Linked DNA regions of Homo sapiens: all the other regions are linked to region 2. The links come from fine-mapping of genetic effects on plasma protein levels. A gene starts in region 2. Each other region holds a variant in brackets. All regions are shown on one strand. Distances are between the middles of the regions.

Region 1 (2,684 bases), 18 kb before region 2:
AGAAAAATGACAAGAGACACATTGGACTATTCACAAAAGACAAACACATATTGCTTATAGGTATAGGAAAAGATGCTGAAACTATAATGAGTAATTAGGACAATGCAAGTTGAAACTCTAACGGGATACCATTTTACATCTCTCAAACTGGTATAAAGTATGATATGGTAATGGTGAGGATGGGATACAAGAGAATTCTGCTGACGGGAGGGAAAAGTTACACAACCGCTTTGGGAAAACACGTTGCCTGCACCTGGTAAAATTGAACAAGCACATAATTCACATCCCATTAATTCTACTCCTAGGCATATTCTACACATATGCACTAGGAGACATCCTCAAGAGTGTTTATAGCAATATTGTCCACATTGGCCACAATCTAGAAACAACCCAAATGCCTGTTGACAGTGAAATATGTAAGTCATGGCATACTCTTATGATGGAATACTATACAGTAGTGAAAATGAGTTACAGTCATGTGGAGCATTGGGCCACAGAAGATACCATACAGTGTGATTCCATTTATGTAAGTTTCAAAACTAGTGCAAACTAAACAATTTTATTTAAAAATGCACACCTAGCTGGTAAAACTACAAGAAAAACAAGAAAAGGAATAACCAAAATCTAGTTAGAGGGCTATGGGATTAGGGAGGGGCACATCAGTCACTGTTCATCAGAGGCTGCTAATGTTGTTTCCTTACCTGGGTGAGGGATTCATAAGAGTTCCTGAACATATATGTTTTGAACACTATTTGGTATAATGTGGTATATTTTACAATGGAGACAAAATTAAAATGATAAAGAGTTTCAGCTCTCACTGCTCCAGGTAGGGTGTGATGGACAGTTTGGTCCCCGATCTGACCAGCCAAGGGGGGAGCCAAATTTGTCTGGGGTTCCAGCAGGTGTGTCAGATGTAACAATGAATGCTATGAGAGAGAAGAATACAGGGGCCTCTTCTTTATGGGTGAAGAGTGGTCATCACTGTTAAGGAAGGTGGCCAGACATTAGTGGGTTAAGCCACCAAAAAGTAAATAGCCCCAAATTCCTTTCAAACTGTATTGCTCAATGTCAAACACACTGTAACAGTTCAAGCAGTATTTGTGCCTGTCTTCAAAGGCCATGCAAGCTTACATGACCTAGTTTATAATTAAGGTGTGTGGGGCTGACAGGGCAGTCTGGTGGGAACAGAGAGAAAGTCTTGTTATAAAAAGTGGTATTTGCTTTGCAGTAGATGCTCAAACTTCATATGTCAGATTGTCTTGGGCAATGAGAGCAAGAAGTTCACCCTAGGTGGAGGCAATAAGAATGGCTTGTATGCAGAGAATTTTTAAAAAACAAGGATAAAGCCAGGCTTGGCCTGTTTTTTATTATCCCCATGAGCCTGCAGCTC[C/T]AAACAGCATCAGTCATGAAGTACCTGTACCTTCTCTCTGGGTTGATTTTTTGTTTTGTTTTGTTTTGTTTTTGAGATGGAGTCTCACTCTATCACCCAGGCTGGAGCGTGCAGTGGTGCAGTCTCGGCTCACTGCAACCTCCGCCTCCCGGTTTCAAGCGATTCTCCTGCCTCAGCTTCCTGAGTAGCTGGGATTACAGGTGCCTGCCACCATGCCCAGCTAATTTTTGTGTTTTTAGTAGAGACAAGGTTTCACCATGTTGGTAAGGCTGATCTTGAACTCCTGACCTCGTGATCTGCCCGCCTCAGCCTCCCAAAGTGCTGGGATTACAGGCGTGAGCCACTGCACCAACTGGGTTGATCTTTTGACCCTTGGTGCTAAGCTGATCCTGGAGACCCCCCACCAACAGTCCCACCAGCTGGAAACACCATGAGGGCAGGGTTCATTTCTGCATTTCCCTTAGGCCCTAGCACAGCTCCTGCCACATGGCAAGTGCTCAGGCAATGCTTATTGTTTTAAGCATCATTAAGATTTCATACTTAGGTAAACCATAAAATCAGATATTGTAGAGGACAAGAGCTGAGGCATGAAGGAGGGTGCACTGGGGAGAGCAACCAAAGACATGGGTGGGCCTGGGTCAGGCCCTGACTCCACTGCCGGCTTGACTTGGACACCGTGGTTTCTGCACCTGTGATCCCATGGGATTGACAGCAGAGATAAATGGACCTGAATATTAGTGTATGGCTGGACACAGAAGAAGTGCCCAATACTCATAACCTCTGAGGTCTAGACACCAAATAGCAGGGTAAGGAGATAAAAGAAATACATATGATTTTAACCTGGGGGAGGAAAGACAGCAGTGTTCTAGAAAGCAAACCTGGGCTCTGGGTCTCATCTAGACTGGCATCTAAATTGCAGTTTTAGGCCAGGCGTGGTGGCTCACGCCTGTAATCCCAGCACTTTGGGAAGCTGAGGTGGGCAGATCACTTGAGGTCAGGAGTTCGAGACCAGCCTGGCCAACATAGTGAAACCCCATCTCTACTAAAAATACCAAAAAATTTAGCTGGGTGTGGTGACATGCGCCTTTAATCCCAGCTACTTGGGAGGCTGAGGGACGAGAATCACTTGAACCCAGGAGACGGAGGCTGCAGTGAGCCAAGATTGCACCACTGCACTCCAGCCTGGGTGACAGAGTGACTCTGTCTCAATAATTAATTAATCAGCTAATTAATTGCAGCTTTGCCACATACTGCTTGTGTAACCCAAGGGAAACAGAAAATGACACGTCCTTTG
Region 2 (2,684 bases):
GTGCAGAGGAGGGAGCCAGCAACCCCAGGAAAGGAAAGCCCTGAAAGAGGCTGATGCGCAAGCTGGCCCCACAGATGTGCAGGAGCTCAGCTAATGGATAAGGAGGCAAGAGCCTTCCTGGGAGGGCTGGTAGCAGATGGGGACATTTGCAGGGGTCTGAGCTTTGGAAGAGAGTCCCCACTGAAATCTGGAGCTCTTGGGGAGGTCTGGCAGGGAAGGTGTTTTGGGACATTAAGCAGAGCCCAGGGAAGGGGCTGAGGCAGCCAAGAAAGAGGCTACTTACCCCATGGGATCATCAGCAGGACCATGAAACCTGGAGCAACACAAGAGAGAAGGCCAGGGTTATGCTGCCATTCTCACCTTCCCAGGCCCCACAGCTTACGGAAGCACAGGAGGTGGTCAGGGAGGGCTGATTTCATACAAATCAAGCTTTCTCCTTTCAGAAGGGACCCAGGAGGGCACTGTGCCCATCCCTTCATGCAGACCAGACCACGGGGGTCTCTTCCTGGCCTGGGTTGGTCCTAGAAGCTGATGGAAAGTTCCATGGGCTGAGGCTGCCCCCTCTCTATACCTCAGTAAAGGGCAGTGTGGATTCAGGAAGATTGTGGAAAAACTGCTGACTTGTGAGTTATTTAGAGAGATAGTTTCTCTTTCGGAACAAGAAACAAGCCTGTTTTGGGGCTAGAAAGAATCAATCTGGAAGGGCTGCATGGAGAGAGTTCATCTCCTGGGGAGGGCCTGTGCCTCTGCTCCCATCGTTTATGGCTTCCTGTTGCCTTTCCGCTACCTGGCTGTGGTAGGCAACCACAGCCTTGGAGACCTAGGGTCTGACAGGACTCCTTCGAAGAGATCTCTTTCACCTGGTGACCTTGGACTTCTCTGTCAACCTAATAGAACCTCCATGAAAATTTGCAAGGATGCCCAGGATCTTGGCCCCAGGCTGCCCTCTTGCAGGACAGACAATATGAGGTTGGAGAAGAGGTTCTTGGCAGTGGGCGCTTCTTGGATAAGGCCAACAGGAGGGACCTAAGAACATGGGAAAGACACAAAGACCCAGTGCAGGGGCCTCATTGACTCTGGGCTTTCAGGACAGAGAGAGGAAAGTCAAGTCATCTTCAGCCTGTTGAGAAAAGCCTTCCCTTGCAACATGAAGTCTCTTGGGCTGAAAGAGCCTAAGGGGGAGCCCACAGGAAAGGTAATCAAGGGACTGCAAGCCAGGAGGCATGGAGAGGGATAAAATGACCCTCTGAAGTTCTCCTGAGTCCTCCTGCTTCCTTGCAAATGGTAGCAAGTGGTCCCTGAACATCCACATCCCCACCTCCCCACAGCTCCCGAGACCCAGCCCACTATCCGACGGCTCACCTGCCCAGGCCACAGACCGCACCATGATGCAGCTCAGCGGCAGGCTGCAGCCCATACAAACCAGCTTTCCAGGTCCTGCTCTGCTTTTATCTGGCCACCCTGTCCCACCCCAGCCAGGAGTGTTGCAATCAGGGGCACTGGGTGGGGGGGATGGGAGCAGGGTGGGGAGGGGTAAGATGTCAAGCAGCATGAATTGGGCAAACTTGACACAATGGCCTTTAGCAATTCTTGCTTTTCTGGAACAATCAGAGGGTGACTCTTAGTGTTGCCAAACAGAGGAAAGCGGGAAGTGGCCCTGAACCTCCTGATGGATGAGCATGACCCTGACTTTCTTTGTGTAGTTGGTGAGGACCATAAGCAGCCCCAGACTTAATAGGGCTTTGGAGGAAGAGAAATGACTCACGAGTCAGGCAGCTGGGTTCCAGACCAGCTCTCTTGCTTCTCCACTGCCCTCTCTCAAACTGTTTCTCCATCTAGAAGATAATGGGGTTGCAAATATAATTTACTTTTCATGATAGTAATAGTTGCATATCCATTGATGGAGAAAAATAGATAATGATAAATAGTGACTATAAGTTTGGTAATGGCTTGAAATGCCTATGTTTCTTATGAAGAATAATAATGGTGGACATTTGGGCCAGGCATGGTGGCTTACACATGTAATTCCAGCACTTTGAGAGGCCGAGGCAGGTAGATCACCTGAGATCAGGAGTTCGAGACCAGCCTAACCAACATGGAGAAACCCCATCTTTACTAAAAATACAAAATTAGCCTGGCATGGTGGCACATGCCTGTAATCCCAGTTACTCGGGAGGCTGAGGCAGGAGAATTGCTTGAACCCAGGAGGCGGAGGTTGTGGTGAGCCGAGATCGCGCCACTGCACTCCAGCCTGGGCAACAAGAGTGAAACTCCATCAAAAAAAAAAAAACAAAAAAAAAAAAACAGAAGAATGGTGGACATTTGTGTCGGTTTCCCAGAGCTTCTGTAACAAATGGCCACCAAACAGGTGATTTGAAACAACAGAAGTTTATTCTTTCACAGTTCTGGAGGTCAGAAGCCTGGAAACAAGGAGTTGGCAGGGCCATGCTTCCTCCGAAGGCTCCAGGGGCGAATACTTCCCAGCAGCTTCCAGCTTCGGATGGCCTGTGGCATTCCTGGGCATGCAACGGCATCGTTCCAGCCTCTGCCTGCCTCCATTTTTACACGCCCTTCCTCGCTGTGTCTCTGTATGTCCCCTCCTTTCTGTCTCTGAGAAGGACATTCTAATCCAAGATGATCTCATCTTGAGATCTTTACCTTCATTACATTTGCAAAGACCCCTA
Region 3 (2,678 bases), 14 kb before region 2:
CATTATTGCCTGGAAAGGTCTTATGTGCACGTTTGTTCACTGTCTGCCTCCCCCAACAGAATGTTAGCCTCAGGAAAGTAAAGCCCCGGCTCTTGTCCCTGCTGTGTCCAGCTGGACACCAGGCCTGCATGGACACTTGGTGTGTGCTGAGAAACTCAGCAGCAGCAGGAAGACTCCAGCCACATGGGGCTTCAAGGCCAAGGTGGAGTCAAAGGAGACAATCTGGCTGGGAACAATGGCTTACACCTGTAATCCCAACAGTTTGGGAGGCCAAGGCAGGAGGATCACTTGAGCCCAGGAGTTGGAGACCAGCCTGTGTAACATGACAAAACCCTGCCTCTACATAAAATACAAAATTTAGCAGGGCATGGTGGTGTGTACCTGTAGTCCCAGCTACCTGGGAGGCTGAGGTGGGAGGATCAGCTGAGCCCAGGAGGTCAAGGCTGCAGTGAGCTGTGATCGTGCCTCTGCACTCCAGCCTGGGTGACAGAGAGAGACCTTGTCTCAAGCAAACAACAGCAACCCCGTCTCTACTAAAAATACAAAAATTAGCCTGGTGTGGTGGCAGGTGCCTGTAGTCCCAGCTCCTCGGGAGGCTGAAGCAGGAGAATCGCTTGAGCCCAGGAGGTGGAGGTTGTAGTAAGCCGAGATCACGCCACTGCACTCCAACCTGGGCAACAGAGCGAGACTCTGTCTCAAAAAAAAAGAAAAAAACCAAAACCCAAAAAACAAAAACCAAACAAACAAACAAAAAACAAAACAAAACAAAAACAAACAAAAAGAGATAATCTGAACACAAATAGCTTTTCGAGAACTCTCATTGTTTCTGTCCTAGACAGGATTCATTCAGAAAATGGCGTGGGCCTGAGCTAGCCGGGTGACAGAGGGCTGTGGGAGTCCCACATGAGGAGCTGGCATGATGGTTGAGGTTAATGCTGACATCAGGGGTACCCAGCAACTGAACTGGGGTGGGGACGGCAGGAGAAGTGACCGGAGAAGACACGAGGGCCTGATAAAGTGTCTCAACCCTGTGCTGATGGGTGGGGACTTTCTCCTTTGGGCAGGGGAAGCCTGTCACTTCCCTTGCTTAGTTTTTAAGCAGGGGAACTGACAGGCTTAGATCTCTATTTTAGAAAGATTAAACTGGTTGCGATGTGGTGGCTGACTGGAAGAGGGGGTGGGCAGGAAGCAGGGAGGCCAGATAGAAGGTGGGTCCAGATATGAGATGATGCTGGTTCTAGCTGAGGGAGTGGCCATGAGTTTGTAGAGGAGCAGGGTGGATGTGAAGACCAGAGAGAGGCTGTGGCTAATGCTTTCCTGAGGGTAACAGTAGTGCAGGTGTAAGACTGCGTACTCAGGGAGGACTTTGGTTATTTGGATGCTTGTAGGAGGGCGCATTCTGCTAAAAGGAGACTACAGTTTTTGCTAAATCCTTGACAAACCCAGCTCACAGAAGTTGAAGAAAGGGCTGAGAAGGGAAGAGGGAGGGAGGGAATGAGCACTGATCATAGGGCAGGCGTGCACGACTTCACTGACTCCTCACATTTCTTCCA[T/C]CCTACAGCAGAGGACTGAGGCTCTGCTTCTTTGCCTGAAGTCACACAGCTGGAGTGCAGCACGCCAGAAGTCACCCCTGCACCTGGACTCCACTCCTAACAGCTCGTTGGGATGTGGTTGGTGTATCCCTCAATTGAGACCTCAGGGGGCGGAGCACGTGCTCAAGCAGCTTGTGCTCTGGACTGAGGAGAGCAGGTTTCAAAATGCCCATGGACAGGCAGGCTGCCGGAGTGACGGGGACACTGTTCCTGCGCTCTGGTGCTGGGTTGACTCACATGGGGGGCCAAGCTGCCTCCCCCTCATCTCACCTGTCCCAGTCCCCAGCTGCCTTCCCAAGTCCCAACCAGAAACCAGCTTGGAGTGAATAACAGGCTGGACCATTAGGCTTTGTGCAGATTTTCTTCAAACAGAATGACCAAGGTGCAGCCCAAAGCAGCCAGGAATGTTGGGATGACTTTATTTAACCAGGACACCGTGTGCATGCTCTCTGGCCCATTTCAGGCCTTGGTTCTGGACTCAGAATTGGTTAGAATCAGTCTTCAGTTTAAATGCCTATAAAGTGAGAATAATCATTGTTCCTTCTTCATCTGGTGAACGGGGGCAGTAGGTGAGATAGGGCCTGCAAAGGGCCCAAACAGGATTTATCTCGAAGACCCCTGAGTACCAGGGGTCTGAATTCTTAGTGTAATGCTGAGTGGCTGCTCGCAGAGCGCTTAAATCAGGGAAAAGTTCTTCTCTGCTGCCATCTAGTGGCATTTTGGGAATAACACGTGCGTGAAGGTCCGCAGAAGCTCCTGTTTCCAGGCTTCTGAGCCAATAACCAAAGAACGTGTTGCACTTGGGGCCGCGCTCTGGCTGCCATCACCTGTGTACTGGAAACTGCCCACTGGCATATGGACTCATGGGGCAAGACCTGCCACAGGGCCTGGCACATCCTGCACGGACCACCTTCCCACCTGGCTCTGACCTGCGGATGTTTTGGAGTCAACAGTGTGCTTAGAGAGCCTCTTAAGTCACCACATCTTTGGGAAGAGGGGCACAAACCAAAGATTTATTTTGCAAGTGAAAGGGGCAGCCCAGGAGACCCAGAAAAAAGGAAGGCAAGGCTGAGAGCAGAAAGCCTG
Region 4 (2,684 bases), 40 kb before region 2:
TGCCTCCTTTTGTACCCAAGATGATTGACAGCAATGACAGTCAATGATAGCTTCTTCTGGTTCATTTGGGGCACTGAGAGGAGGACTTCTAATTTCTAATAGTGATATTATGAAGTGGCATGCAGATGCAAAATTTTTCATCACAGAGCACAGGATGTTAAGAAAACACCTCCTATTTTCACTATCTCCCTTTGTTAAAAATTATTTCATAGGCTTAGATTGGCCCAAGCCTTGTTGTCCTATGCTCCCTCAAGCTCAGTTTATTAATTCCACATGCTCTGCCTGAAGGCAGCTTTGTAACAACAAATGGCCAAGATACCCCCAGGCCTGTGTTAGCAGGATTGGCCAAGGGTCTCATAGGCTCACCACCTCCCAGCCTTATCTCAGGCCATGACCCCCACCCTCCCTATATTCCACTCATGCTTATATGTCTTCTTTTAAATCCTTATATTTGCTCTACTGACTCCCGCCACAGGGCCTTTATATATGACATCCACTTGCCTGTAAATAACGATGAAAGATCTGAGATTTTATGCTACTTGCAAATTAATGACATAACTACAGTTTCGTGGATGTTGGCAGAAGACACGAGACTCCTAGGTCAGAGACAAAGGACTTTATTATCCATGGTACAGCAAGCAGCATGAACTTCATGTTAGGGTCAGTTCCCCTTAGCCCTCAGGTCTCACAAGGGCAGTGTTGGAGGAGCCCAGGTAGATGCCATGAATGCAATGAGTTACATCACAGCAGAGGAATCCCTAGTTTAAGGAACTCAAATCTTTCATGATGAGCAGTAAGCCTTCCTCACCTTGGCCAGCCCAAGATAAGGGAGACATTATCTTTATTACTGGACAGTAAACAAATCTGCCTTTTGGTCTGGAGGGGGGACGCTATTTCTATCTTCCAAGGCTGTTTGCTGTACAAACATCACTAAAAAGATTGCCTAGAACAAAGAAGCCAGTGCCTCTGCACATAAGCTGTGCAGGAAATGCAGGCAACCCATGGAGAATTGCGGTTGGAGAATTGCGGATGGAGAATTGCAGCCTAACACTGCTCTTCTTTGACTGCTTTATTCTTCCTCATCCTTCAGATTGCAGCTCAGGAGTCACCTTGTCTGCAGAAAAGGCAGTCTCCAGGTGACAGAAAACCC[G/A]CTATAGGGCTGTCAGAGCACTTTGTACCTCTCTCCTTAACACCTGACTCAGTTATAATTTTATATGTTGTGTGTGGCAGTGGATGTTTTGTTTGCCTCTCTCACTAGACTATAAACTCAGTAAAGGCAACGGCTGGGTCATTTTATCCACCTTTGTATCTATCCCCAGTGCTTGAGACATAGTAGATGCTCAGTAAAGTACTCGTTGAATAAATGAACAAATGATCTCAAAATGGTGCATAACTTCACACTCTTATGAGTTTAAACCCTGATGTTCTCAAAATTTCATCTCATTCAATAGTTTTTGTTACCCTGTGAAGAACTGACTCAGGAGGTGCCATAAAACCACAAAACAAGCTTCCTGACTTAATTTCCCTAATCAAACATTTCTAGGCCCCACAGTACATTGATAGTGTTCAACCAATGTTTATTAAGTAAGTGTACTAGAGTAGTTGCCTTCCACTGAGGTAGACAGTAGAGACAGAAAGGTGAATGGGAACAGAGAGGCAGTCCCTGTCCTCATGAAGCATACAGTCTGGCAAAGAAGATGGACATTAAACAAAGAAAAGCAAGTAATGTATTACGAAGGAAGGGCAGGTGTTAGTCTGCCCCTTGCCCACCGTCCCCTACACACAAAAAAAATTGTGCAAAAACCTGGAGCAGGAAGAGGTTGTTATGTTCAGGAACCAGAAGAATTCAAGAGTGGTTGAGGCATGGAATTAGCAGGAGGGAGCTCGAGGGAGGCACAAGATGAGTCTGGATCAGGAGCCAGAGGGTGGACATTACCACCATTCAGAAAACAAGCTCCTGGGAGCCTGGGCTGGCCCCTTGGGCACAGTGGTTTTGAGGATTCCTTCATTTTGCATGGCGTGTCAGAGCAAACAGAGGTGGTGTTGATGCCCCACCAAATGCTTGAGGAGAATTCTCTCTTTTACAAGTAGTCTCTTCCTCCAGAGGGTGGACTTCTGCCAGGCAGGAATTCAAATCATCTCCAAATCCTCAGCTCGGTGGTGGTGCTGGCGCACAGTAGAAGCTGTCGAAGACTCAGAGGCAGAAACACTTAGAGAAGAAAACAGTTGCTTGTGAAAAGCGGAAGCGAGTCAGATTTCAGAATGGCTGGCTCGTCAAATGCAAAATGCAACAAGTATTTGAAGGGGAAAAAAAAATGACCCAAGGTTATCACGTTTGGTGGAGATCAGCATCATTTTTACAACACATCTTCACTTATCAGCATAGCAAAAATCAGGGATGAAATTGTTTTTTTCGGGGAATTTTTTTTCTTTTTGAGACAGAGTCTCACTCTGTCACCCAGGCTGGAGTGCAGTGGCGTGATCTGGGCTCACTGCAGCTTCGACCTTCTGGGCTCAAGCCATCCTCCTGCCTCAGCCTCCCAAAGTGTTGGGATCAATGGCGTGTGCAACCACACCCAGCTGGGAATCCAAATTTATGGGAAATAGCCAAGGCTTATTATTTTGGTGTCTTAAACCACTCAGGATAACCTATTATTCTTGGCTTATCTCCAGATGCAAATTAT

Alleles and levels. Positions count from the first base shown, and alleles are read on the strand shown. Strength reflects both the effect of a copy and how common the allele is.
As copies of T replace C in region 1, the plasma level of the protein whose gene starts at base 1,424 in region 2 goes down (moderate association).
With allele T in place of C in region 3, the plasma level of the protein whose gene starts at base 1,424 in region 2 is higher (strong association).
For the plasma level of the protein whose gene starts at base 1,424 in region 2, allele G in region 4 goes with a higher level than allele A (weak association).

Evidence for each region. PIP is the chance, under the fine-mapping model, that this variant and not a neighbour inherited with it causes the effect. Protein levels are from antibody-based Olink assays in UK Biobank. Linkage for the fine-mapping came from a reference panel and not from the study's own genotypes, which makes the PIPs less certain.
Region 1: its variant is fine-mapped to the plasma level of the CHIT1 protein (UK Biobank, PIP above 0.99).
Region 3: its variant is fine-mapped to the plasma level of the CHIT1 protein (UK Biobank, PIP above 0.99).
Region 4: its variant is fine-mapped to the plasma level of the CHIT1 protein (UK Biobank, PIP above 0.99).

The regions. Positions count from the first base shown.
Region 1 is chr1:203,210,099-203,212,782 of GRCh38, forward strand. No RefSeq gene overlaps it. Among named protein-coding and RNA genes, the nearest start is that of CHIT1, 18 kb to the right of the region's middle. The variant C/T (reference allele first, on the strand shown) is at 1,391.
Region 2 is chr1:203,228,250-203,230,933 of GRCh38, forward strand. It overlaps CHIT1 (chitinase 1), which reads right to left and starts at 1,424. Exons shown (of 11, transcript NM_003465.3): 1 at 1,363-1,424; 2 at 284-313. The coding sequence starts at 1,387.
Region 3 is chr1:203,214,085-203,216,762 of GRCh38, forward strand. CHIT1 (chitinase 1) reads right to left here. Exons shown (of 11, transcript NM_003465.3): 11 at 1,995-2,678. Among named protein-coding and RNA genes, the nearest start is that of CHIT1, 14 kb to the right of the region's middle. RefSeq lists enhancers at 1,248-2,004, 2,005-2,678. The variant T/C (reference allele first, on the strand shown) is at 1,554.
Region 4 is chr1:203,188,036-203,190,719 of GRCh38, forward strand. No RefSeq gene overlaps it. Among named protein-coding and RNA genes, the nearest start is that of CHI3L1, 2.7 kb to the left of the region's middle. The variant G/A (reference allele first, on the strand shown) is at 1,151.